2 separate regions of the Homo sapiens genome follow, and region 1 is linked to region 2. The links come from fine-mapping of genetic effects on gene expression. A gene starts in region 2. The other region holds a variant in brackets. All regions are shown on one strand. Distances are from middle to middle. Region 1 has its middle 49 kb from the start of NHSL1. Region 2 holds the start of NHSL1 (NHS like 1).

Region 1 (4,397 bases), 48 kb before region 2:
TGGCACGATCCCAGCTCACTGCAACCTCCGCCTCCCAGGTTCAAGCAATTCTCCTGCCTCAGCTTCCGGAGTAGCTGGGATTACAGGTGTACGACACCACACCTGGCTCATTTTATATTTTTAGTAGAGATGGGGTTTCGCCATGTTGGCCAGGCTGGTCTTAAACTCCTTACCTCAGGTGATCAGCCTGCCTTGTCCTCCTAAAGTGCTGGGATTATAGGCATGAGCCACTGTGCCCGGCCCACAAGGGATTTTTTTTTAATATGATAACTTTATATTTGACATTAAGAAAAACCCCTTTTGTTGTCATTGCTCGAGGTTAATGCTGTGAAGTTTTCAGATAGTGATACCTATAATTTCAGCAATTTAATAGAGGTTGGTATGTGTGCTGTTTAGAAGTGCTATAACATTTTGCTGCAGTAAGTACAAGGGTATGGAAAAAATAGGTTTTAAGCCTATGTAAACATAAATTGAAGACGATTTAAAAGAAAAACAAATCATGCCCATCTCACGTAATTATTACCTTGCTAAATGTATAAGTTCCCTAGAGTCACTGTAACAAATTACCCCAAGCGTGGTGGCTTAAAATAACCAGTTTATTCTCTCCCTATTTAGGAAACCCGAGTTCTAAAATCAAGGTGGTAACAGAGTCCTGCTCCCACCAGAGGCAGTATGGGAGAATTCTGTCCTGCCTCTTCCAGCTTCTGCTGGTTCCAGGTGTTCCTTATCTGTGACAGCATCCCTCCAGTCTGTGCCTCCATCTTTTATGACCTTCACTGTGTCTCTGTATCCTTTTCTGTCTCTCTCTCTTTTTTTGAGACAGAGGTTTGCTCTTGTTGCCCAGGTTGGAGTTCAATGGCGCAATCTTGGCTCACTGCAACCTCCGCCTCCCAGGTTCAAGCAATTCTCCTGCCTCAGCCTCCCATGTAGCTGGGATTACAGGCATGCGCCACTACGCCTGGCTAATTTTGTGTTTTTAGTAGAGACAGGGTTTCTCCATGTTGGTTAGGCTGGTCTCGAACTCCTGACCTCAGGTGATCCACCCGCCTTGGCCTCCTAAAGCGCTGGGATTACAGGCATGAGCCACCATGCCCGACTCCATTTTCTCTCTTATTAGGACACTGTGAGTGGATTTAGGGCCCACCTTAATGCAGTATCATCTCATCTTGATTCTTACCTTCCTTAACTTATGAAGACTTTATTTCCAAATAAGTTCACACTCTGAGGGTGGACATGAATTTGGGGTGGACACTATTCAACCCACTACATTAAATTATATATGCTTTAACTTTAGGAGAGTAGCTTAATGAGATGGCAGTAGGCAAGAACTACCATTGATCATTATTAATTTTGTGTATTCTTCTGTTATGTGACTTACCACACTGAATTATATTTATTCCACTCATCTCTTGCACTAAACCACAAGAAGGCAAAGATTCTTTTCCTGTGACCTGACATAATGTACCTAATAGTATGTGTGTGTATTCATACCAAAAATAAAAAATTATTGAGTTAAGATGGAACCTTAGAGTTAATTTAGTCCCCTTGTTCTATTCAGTCCTCACATTTACAGGCCATGAACTGCTGTGAGACTAACTATTAGGGCATCCAATCTTTTGGCTTCCCTGGGGCCACATTGGAAGGAGAAGGATTGTCTTGGGCCACACATAAAATACACCAACCGTAATGATAGCTGATGAACTTAAAAATTGCAAAACAATCTCATAATGTTTCAGAAAGTTTACAAATTTGTGTTGGGTCACATTCAGAGCTGTCCTGGGCTGCATGTGGGCCACAGGTTGGACAGACTTGAACTAGATAGTCATATAGATATGACTGGAATGAGATTCTCTTTACTTTTCAGTCCACTATACTTTCCAGCATATAAAGTCATCTCT[G/A]TTTAAAAAGGCTTAAACTGCCAGGTGCAGTGGCTCACGCCTGTAATCCCAGCATTTTGGGAGGCTGAGGTGGGTGGATCACGAGGTCAGGAGTTCAAGACCAGCCTGGCCAAGATGGTGAAACCCTGTCTGTACTACAAATACAAAAAAAAATTAGCCGGGCATGGTGGCGGGCACCTGTAGTCCCAGCTACTTGGGAGGCTGAGGCAGCGAATTGCTTGAACTCAGGAGGTGGGGGTTGCAGTGAGCCAAGATCGTGCCACTGCACTCCAGCCAGAGTGAGACTCGGTCTCATTAGCCTGTGTTCAAAAGTCTTAAGTCTCTAAGGTAGGAGTTCCTTTCTCTCTCTGTACAATTTGAAAAGTTAAATGTAACCCATGAAAATATTTTCAGGAATACCTCTGTAATTCGTAAATTACATGGGAGAGACTACTCAGAACAGGAGAGGACAGAGAATAACTCAGATCAGCCATGGAGAGAGTCCCGTGGTGAGATGGAAGAGGCTAATCAGCTGGTCTGGTTTTGATCTTGTTTGTTAGGTGAATCAATCACCTCATGGTTTACACAAATGAAATGAGCTATGAGGTTCCCTCCCATTCTGTTCTAAGAGTTAATATCAGGCCGGGGATGGTGGCTCACGCCTGTAATCCCAGAACTTTGGGAGGCCGAGGCGGGTGGATCACAAGGTCAGGAGATCGAGACCATCCTGGCTAAAATAGTGAAACCCTGTCTCTGCTAAAAATACAAAAAAACATTAGCCGGGCCTGGCGGCGGGCGCCTGTAATCCCAGCTACTCGGAAGGCTGAGGCAGGAGAATGGCGAGAACCTGGGAGACGGAGCTTGCAGTGAGCTGAGATCACACCACTGCCCTCCAGCCTGGGCAACAGAGTGAGACCCTCTCAGGGGAAAAAAAAAGAAGAAGAAGCGTTAATATCACTGTTCATCATTCCCCATGCAGTTTTTTTTTTTTTTAATCCTAACTAGCTTCTGGCTAGAGACCTCTTATATATTCTTGTGATCATAGAAACTAGTACAGTGACTTCCTTATGGTAGACAACATATTTATTACCCAGGTGCTATTGGTGATTCATGGTGACAGGGAGCAGAAACCCAGCTGGGATATGCTGCACCGTATGTTGAAAACCAAAAGAACATAGAGCATCCTTACTGTGTGGCAGTGAGCACCCCAGGACACAGACAGATAGATAGATTGGTTCTGTGAGTCAGTTTCCTGCATCCTGTGGAGTCAAAAGGAAGACCTGCAAACAGCAACGGGTCCTGTGAACAATGGCCACTTCCTGAGCCAGGAGACTCACGTCTCTGTGGGGAAGGACCACGGGGCCACTTAGGGTTCAGATGGTACTTTTCAAGCAGGGTGCTCCTGAGGCAGTATTTGTGGACTGTTTCTCATCAGGTCTGTCATAAGATTCCTTCTGCCACTTTCCACCTGTGTTTGAGAGTCCACAGTCAAGTAACCTTGAACTTGCCAGAGTGAATTTAGCTTTCCAGTGGAGGGGAAGAAATGTACTGATCTGATCACAGCCACAGTACAGTTAGAAATTCTCGTACTCTAATGCTGCATTTGTTTCCTCATTTGAAAAAATGACATTGCCATAGAAGTGTAACATGCTTCACATTTTTATCCTAATACTCAAGTGGTTTTCTTGTTTTCTGTTTGTTTGTTTTTTGTTTTGAGACAAGGTCTCACTCTGTTGCCTGGGCTGGAGTGCAGTGGTGTGATCATGGCCCAATGCAGTCTCGACCTCTTGGTCTCAAACAATCCTCCCTCCTCAGCCTCCCAAGTAGCTGGGACCACAGGTGCATGCCACCATGCCCAGCTAGTTTTTTTTTTTTTTTTTTTTTTTTTTTTTTTTGTAGAGATGGGGTCTCACTGTGTTGCCGAGGCTGGTCTCAAACTCCTGGGCTCAAGTGATATTCCCACCTTGGTCTCCCAAAGTTCTGGGATTATAGGTGTGAGCCACCATGTCCGCCCCGTTTTTAAATAGCAGTATGTAGTAGTAATGATAGCACTTACTTTGTGCTTATGATTTGTCTGGGACTGAAAGAGCATTTCACATATATTCACTCATTTACGTAGACTCAGACAACAGAGTGCAAAGTTTCCTATTATAATGTGCAGTGTTAATTATGTACCAGTATATGGTGTGTTCTATATTAGAAAAAAAAGGGGAGCATGTGAACAGAAAAGGAATAATGAAGTCAGTGAATAGTAAGTCATAATTAATAGCAAAAGGTTAAACTGAATTGAGTGATTTCTTTTTTGTGTTGTTGATCACGTGAAGAGCTGCATCCGCTGTGGTGGAAAATGCTGAGAGAGAAGCACAAACAAATGGGCTCGCCCTTGGGCTGATCTGCACTGGACTATATGAACGGTGACTGCTAACCCCTGGCTCCTTTCCCCTTTCAAGATGATTGCAGGCTGATTCCATGGTGTGAAATAACCCAGGAGAGATAGGGAGGTGTCAGCAGCACAGCCCA
Region 2 (4,397 bases):
TACAGTATTTTATATCAGGGACTGGAGCATCCAAGGATTTTTGTATCCAAGGGGCATCCTGGAATGGATACAGAGGAACAACTGCGGCCACTTTATATCACACTTAATATTGAGTGAGAAAGGAAATTACCCCATGCAAGATTCTTCCTACAGTTCATTTTCTGAGAGGAAAGAGCACTTCTCTAGTCCTGGGGGATGGAAATGTGTCTCACAGCCTGAGGAATCTCTCTCTCTCTCTTTAAAATGAGAGCCAGTGAGATTCATTACACAGTTTTGTTTTCTTGCCATTGCCTCCTTCAAGGTTTTGCTCAAATCTCGACTTTTCACGAGGACCACCCTGACTCCTACGATGCTGCAGCCTGGCCACCCTCAAACCCCCTTTTATGTTGCTTAACTTTTTTATTTTGTCTGTTGCACTCAACTCCTTCTAATATACCACAAAATTGTAGTTCAGTGTCAAATAATTTAAGCTCCATGAGGGCAGGGATCTCACCTATTTTGTCCAATGATGTATCCCAATGAAATGAAAGAGTAGCAGTTAGCATCGGTGCCTGGTATTTATCTTTCTGATGAACGAATCTATATTCAGATGCCATTGTTGAGCACATGGAAAGCTACATGCTATGGAGGGTTGAGCATAATCAGAGTTTCTTGAAAGAACAATTTCTGTTTTCACTGGACATTTGCATGGTGACACTTAACCTCAAACACTTGTGGATTGTGCATATGAGTGTTTTTGCCCACAACTCTCCTTGTGTCTAATGCAATGAGCAGAGCGAGGTCACTCTTGCAGATAAATTTGTTTTCCAAAGGGGAACTTTGCCCGCTAATTTAAGGCAGCCACATAATCTGACTTACAGGCTCAGTCGTTTCTCATTTGCCATCTGGCAATTTAATTACTTTAAAATAAAGCTATATATAAAATGAAATAACACAAATTGGAAATCTGTGATAATATGTATGATAAGATGGTAACGTTTCTATGTGTTCTTTTGTTTTGTTGTTGTTGAAAAAATAAAGGGCATAAAAAGACCTGAGAAGGAATCATTTCAAAGCTTTCCCCTATGTGTTCTTTTGTTTTGTTGTTGTTGAAAAAATAAAGGGCATAAAAAGACCTGAGAAGGAATCATTTCAAAGCTTTCCCTAGACAGAGCCCCTTATATAAATTTTATTCTTTGACTAAGAGCCTTTGTTATAAACTAAATGTTTTGAATTAGTGGATTATTACATTTTTCCATTGAGTTATAAGTCTGGCCCAAAGCTATGAAATAAGAGGTTGTCTAAATTGTTTCAAAAGTGTTTGGCCATGAAGTGGAACTGGGCTGAGATGTGAGGAAGATTCTTTTCCTTTTTCCGTTGTCATAGTATTTCCGGATCTATATTCTCCTCTTTTTTCCTATCCCTTTACCCCTGGAATATGTTTTTTCAGTGCCTTCTTATACTCTGTTTCTGATTTCTCTGTCTCTACTTGTGCTTCCCTAGTTCTCTGTGGTTAATTGCCAATGGGCAAAAGAACCAGCACTCTGGATGGTAGATTCAAGTTAAAGAGTAACTCAGATAATGTTTGTTTGAGACAACATTGAGGGAAGGGCGATTATGGAATTCTGAAAACCAGGAGCCTAAGTGACAATTACATATAAAATAAAGATTAAAATGATTAGGGTACTTTATCTAATTTATCATTTGGAGTGGGGAAGTTGTATTTTTTTTGGTGGATTTTTTTTTTTCTTGATTGTTGTGGCAGCTAGATGCAAATAAGATCATGCTTTGGAACACACAATGCTGATTCTCAATCACTGGCAAAGAAGGGTGAGAAGACAGAGCATCCTAATTTGCACAAAAATGCAACCAAGTCATCATTTGCAGCTCCTTGGAGATTCTATTCTAAAGTTTTACTGCTTGTACAAGTTCCTTTGGTATCGGAGGCAGAGCCTGGGGCGTGGTTGGGAAACAATAGTTTGGTTTTTTTCCCCCCTAAATCAGTTCAAATCCCATATACCCTGAATTAACTGGAATTGCTGTCAGACTTGGCAGCTCCTGTAAAAGATCTGGGTGTTCATAGGGGCCTAATGAAATGGGGAACACATTTGTTTCATCTTGACTTCCGTAGAGGAAAGTCTGCACTATTTTTGTGGGCTCAGAGAGGAGGAACTTCTGATCTGTTGGAGAGAAAACTGAATGAATGGGCACTGAGGCAGAAAGCCTGATGTGGCTGTCATGCAAATAAGAACCGTGATTGGCTTTCTCTTTCTTTCAGCGCACGATGTCACTGGCTGCTCTCAGCCTTAAAGATTAGGTTTCAGTAGGAGTTTTTCAGGTTCAAGGACTGTTAATGGTTTGTAACTGCCTGACAATAAACTCAACCTCAGTTACATCAGCCTGGGCAGATGTCTAAGGATATGAGACCGGGGGAAGAAAAAGTTAGAATCTGTAGCAGAAGGACGAAGCTTGCCACCTGCCTACTGGGCTGAGCTTTTAATGTGATTTACATTTCTAAGCTCTATGTAGGTGCCCTGGAAATGGTGGTCTTCATTAATGCAAAGATTAAGTCTTTAATTAAACTTTTTAAGAAGAAAAGTAAGTAGTTCCTTTTCTCTCTACTACCTATTGTGTGCATATGTTTCCATATGTGTATATGTCCCTGTGTGTCTGTGTGTGTGTGTGTGTGTGTGTGTCCATGTGTGTGTTTTAGGTCCTTCGTTCTTTTGTGTGAAGAAATTAGAGTGTGAAACAGCGTAATAGGCATGAGTTAAACTCTACTCTATACCAGGTTGTTTAAATACCTCAGACTTTTGTAACTCTAGGACAGTATTATGTGATCTTAGCATGTCTTATTTATTTATGATTGGGGTTTTAAGTGAATTCACTTCTTCTGTGCTTTTCAAAAGAAGTCCTTTGAAGAGGGGGGAAATTCTTGTACTTAATTTATGTTTCCCTTGATATCAAGTGTATGATTTTTTGATTCTTTGGATAAATATGCAGCTGAGGTAAGGGAGCCTCTGTGTAATGTATCACATATTTCTGGTGGAGATAATCCCCTGAAACTCCCTGGCACTCTTTGTTGTGTATTTAAGAGCTCGAGCACAAACTGTCTAGACTGATCAGTGATTGTTGTAAGGTACAGAACTTTTGTGATGTGGCTTTATTGTGTACTTACCATTGACTTACATTTCTTTAATGTAGGTGCTTCTTCATTCTCTTGAAAATAATAATTTTTATAACTACTTGGCTTTGTTTTTACATAGTCGGTGGTTTATTTTATTTTAGTTTAGTTTAGTGTTTGGACCAGTGACTTATACTGGATAAATGAACATGGGTAGGGGCATTGGTAAGAGGAGCTTTGGAGAAAGCTACAAAGAGCAGCACGGTGGGCTGATTTTCTGCAGCTCCTTGCTAAAGGCTGCCTTTGGATGAACAGATTAAAAGTGGCCCTGGCGAGAGTGAGGAACACGAGGGGAAGAGACTTTTTCATAGGAGCCAGTTGGTAGCTGTGCAGTGGGGCCGATGGTGCGATTGATGGTGCAGACACGAATGCCATTACTTGGATTTGATTTGAAATTGTCGAATAGGAAAAGTTTCCATTTTCAATAGTTTCTAACTCTGAAGTATGGTAACTCAGTCTTTAAAATAAATGGACATCAGCACAAAACACTGTGATGAACTCTGGCTACACTTTGGGGGGACATATGGTGAGTTTGGCCCAATGCTAGATTCTTCTGAAACACAAATGAGGGTTAAGTCAGGTCTTTGTGGATTTTGTGTATTAAGATTGATAGTTGTATGCACCATGCAAAACATTTGCTCAACAAGAGTTTACATGAAATACTAGGTGCCAAATTCACATACTGCTTTTGTCAAATACTAAGCAGAAAGCACAATGGACATTTCTGTTTTTAACTTGATATCTAGTTCTCAATGTTTATTTTCTCATTTAGCAACTTACGGAGAAGGTGGGGTCCTTTTGAAAATGAGTTATCCTGTTCAGATTCATAAGATTGTAAAATTTAGTAGCTGCAGAAAAGATGGTATGTGAGATGAGCGCTAGCATGTGGCCCAGGTTTACAAGAGACAGTGACAGTTCAAAGTTTGGGGCCTCGTTAGAATAATTTTTACTGTTCCTGCCACAACCATGTTTTACCTGAGTTATTTCTTGAGCTAAGTACTTTATGTATATTGGTTCATTTGATCTTTAGAGTAGCCCTAATAACTGTGCTATAGAGTATGTTTAGTGAATTTTAGATGTGCTCAAATGGATTTAATAGTTTATGCGTGTGTTCTCATGTTACTTTGAGAATTCATTTTATGGTCTAGTTTCCAGGTACATGTTATGTTGGGGACATGGATACGCCCAGTGTGAACTCTATAGCATAGATCAGAGTCAGGAAGACTTGCTCCTC

The links. PIP is the estimated chance that this variant, and not a neighbour inherited with it, causes the effect. A credible set is the group of variants that fine-mapping cannot tell apart.
Region 1: its variant is the best candidate, but not a certain one, in a credible set for the expression of NHSL1 in fibroblasts (GTEx, PIP 0.64).

Annotation. Positions count from the first base shown.
Region 1 is chr6:138,545,803-138,550,199 of GRCh38, reverse strand. It overlaps a transcript of NHSL1 not described here. Among named protein-coding and RNA genes, the nearest start is that of NHSL1, 49 kb to the right of the region's middle. The variant G/A (reference allele first, on the strand shown) is at 1,899.
Region 2 is chr6:138,497,413-138,501,809 of GRCh38, reverse strand. It overlaps NHSL1 (NHS like 1), which reads left to right and starts at 2,316. Exons shown (of 8, transcript NM_001144060.2): 1 at 2,316-2,577. The coding sequence starts at 2,520.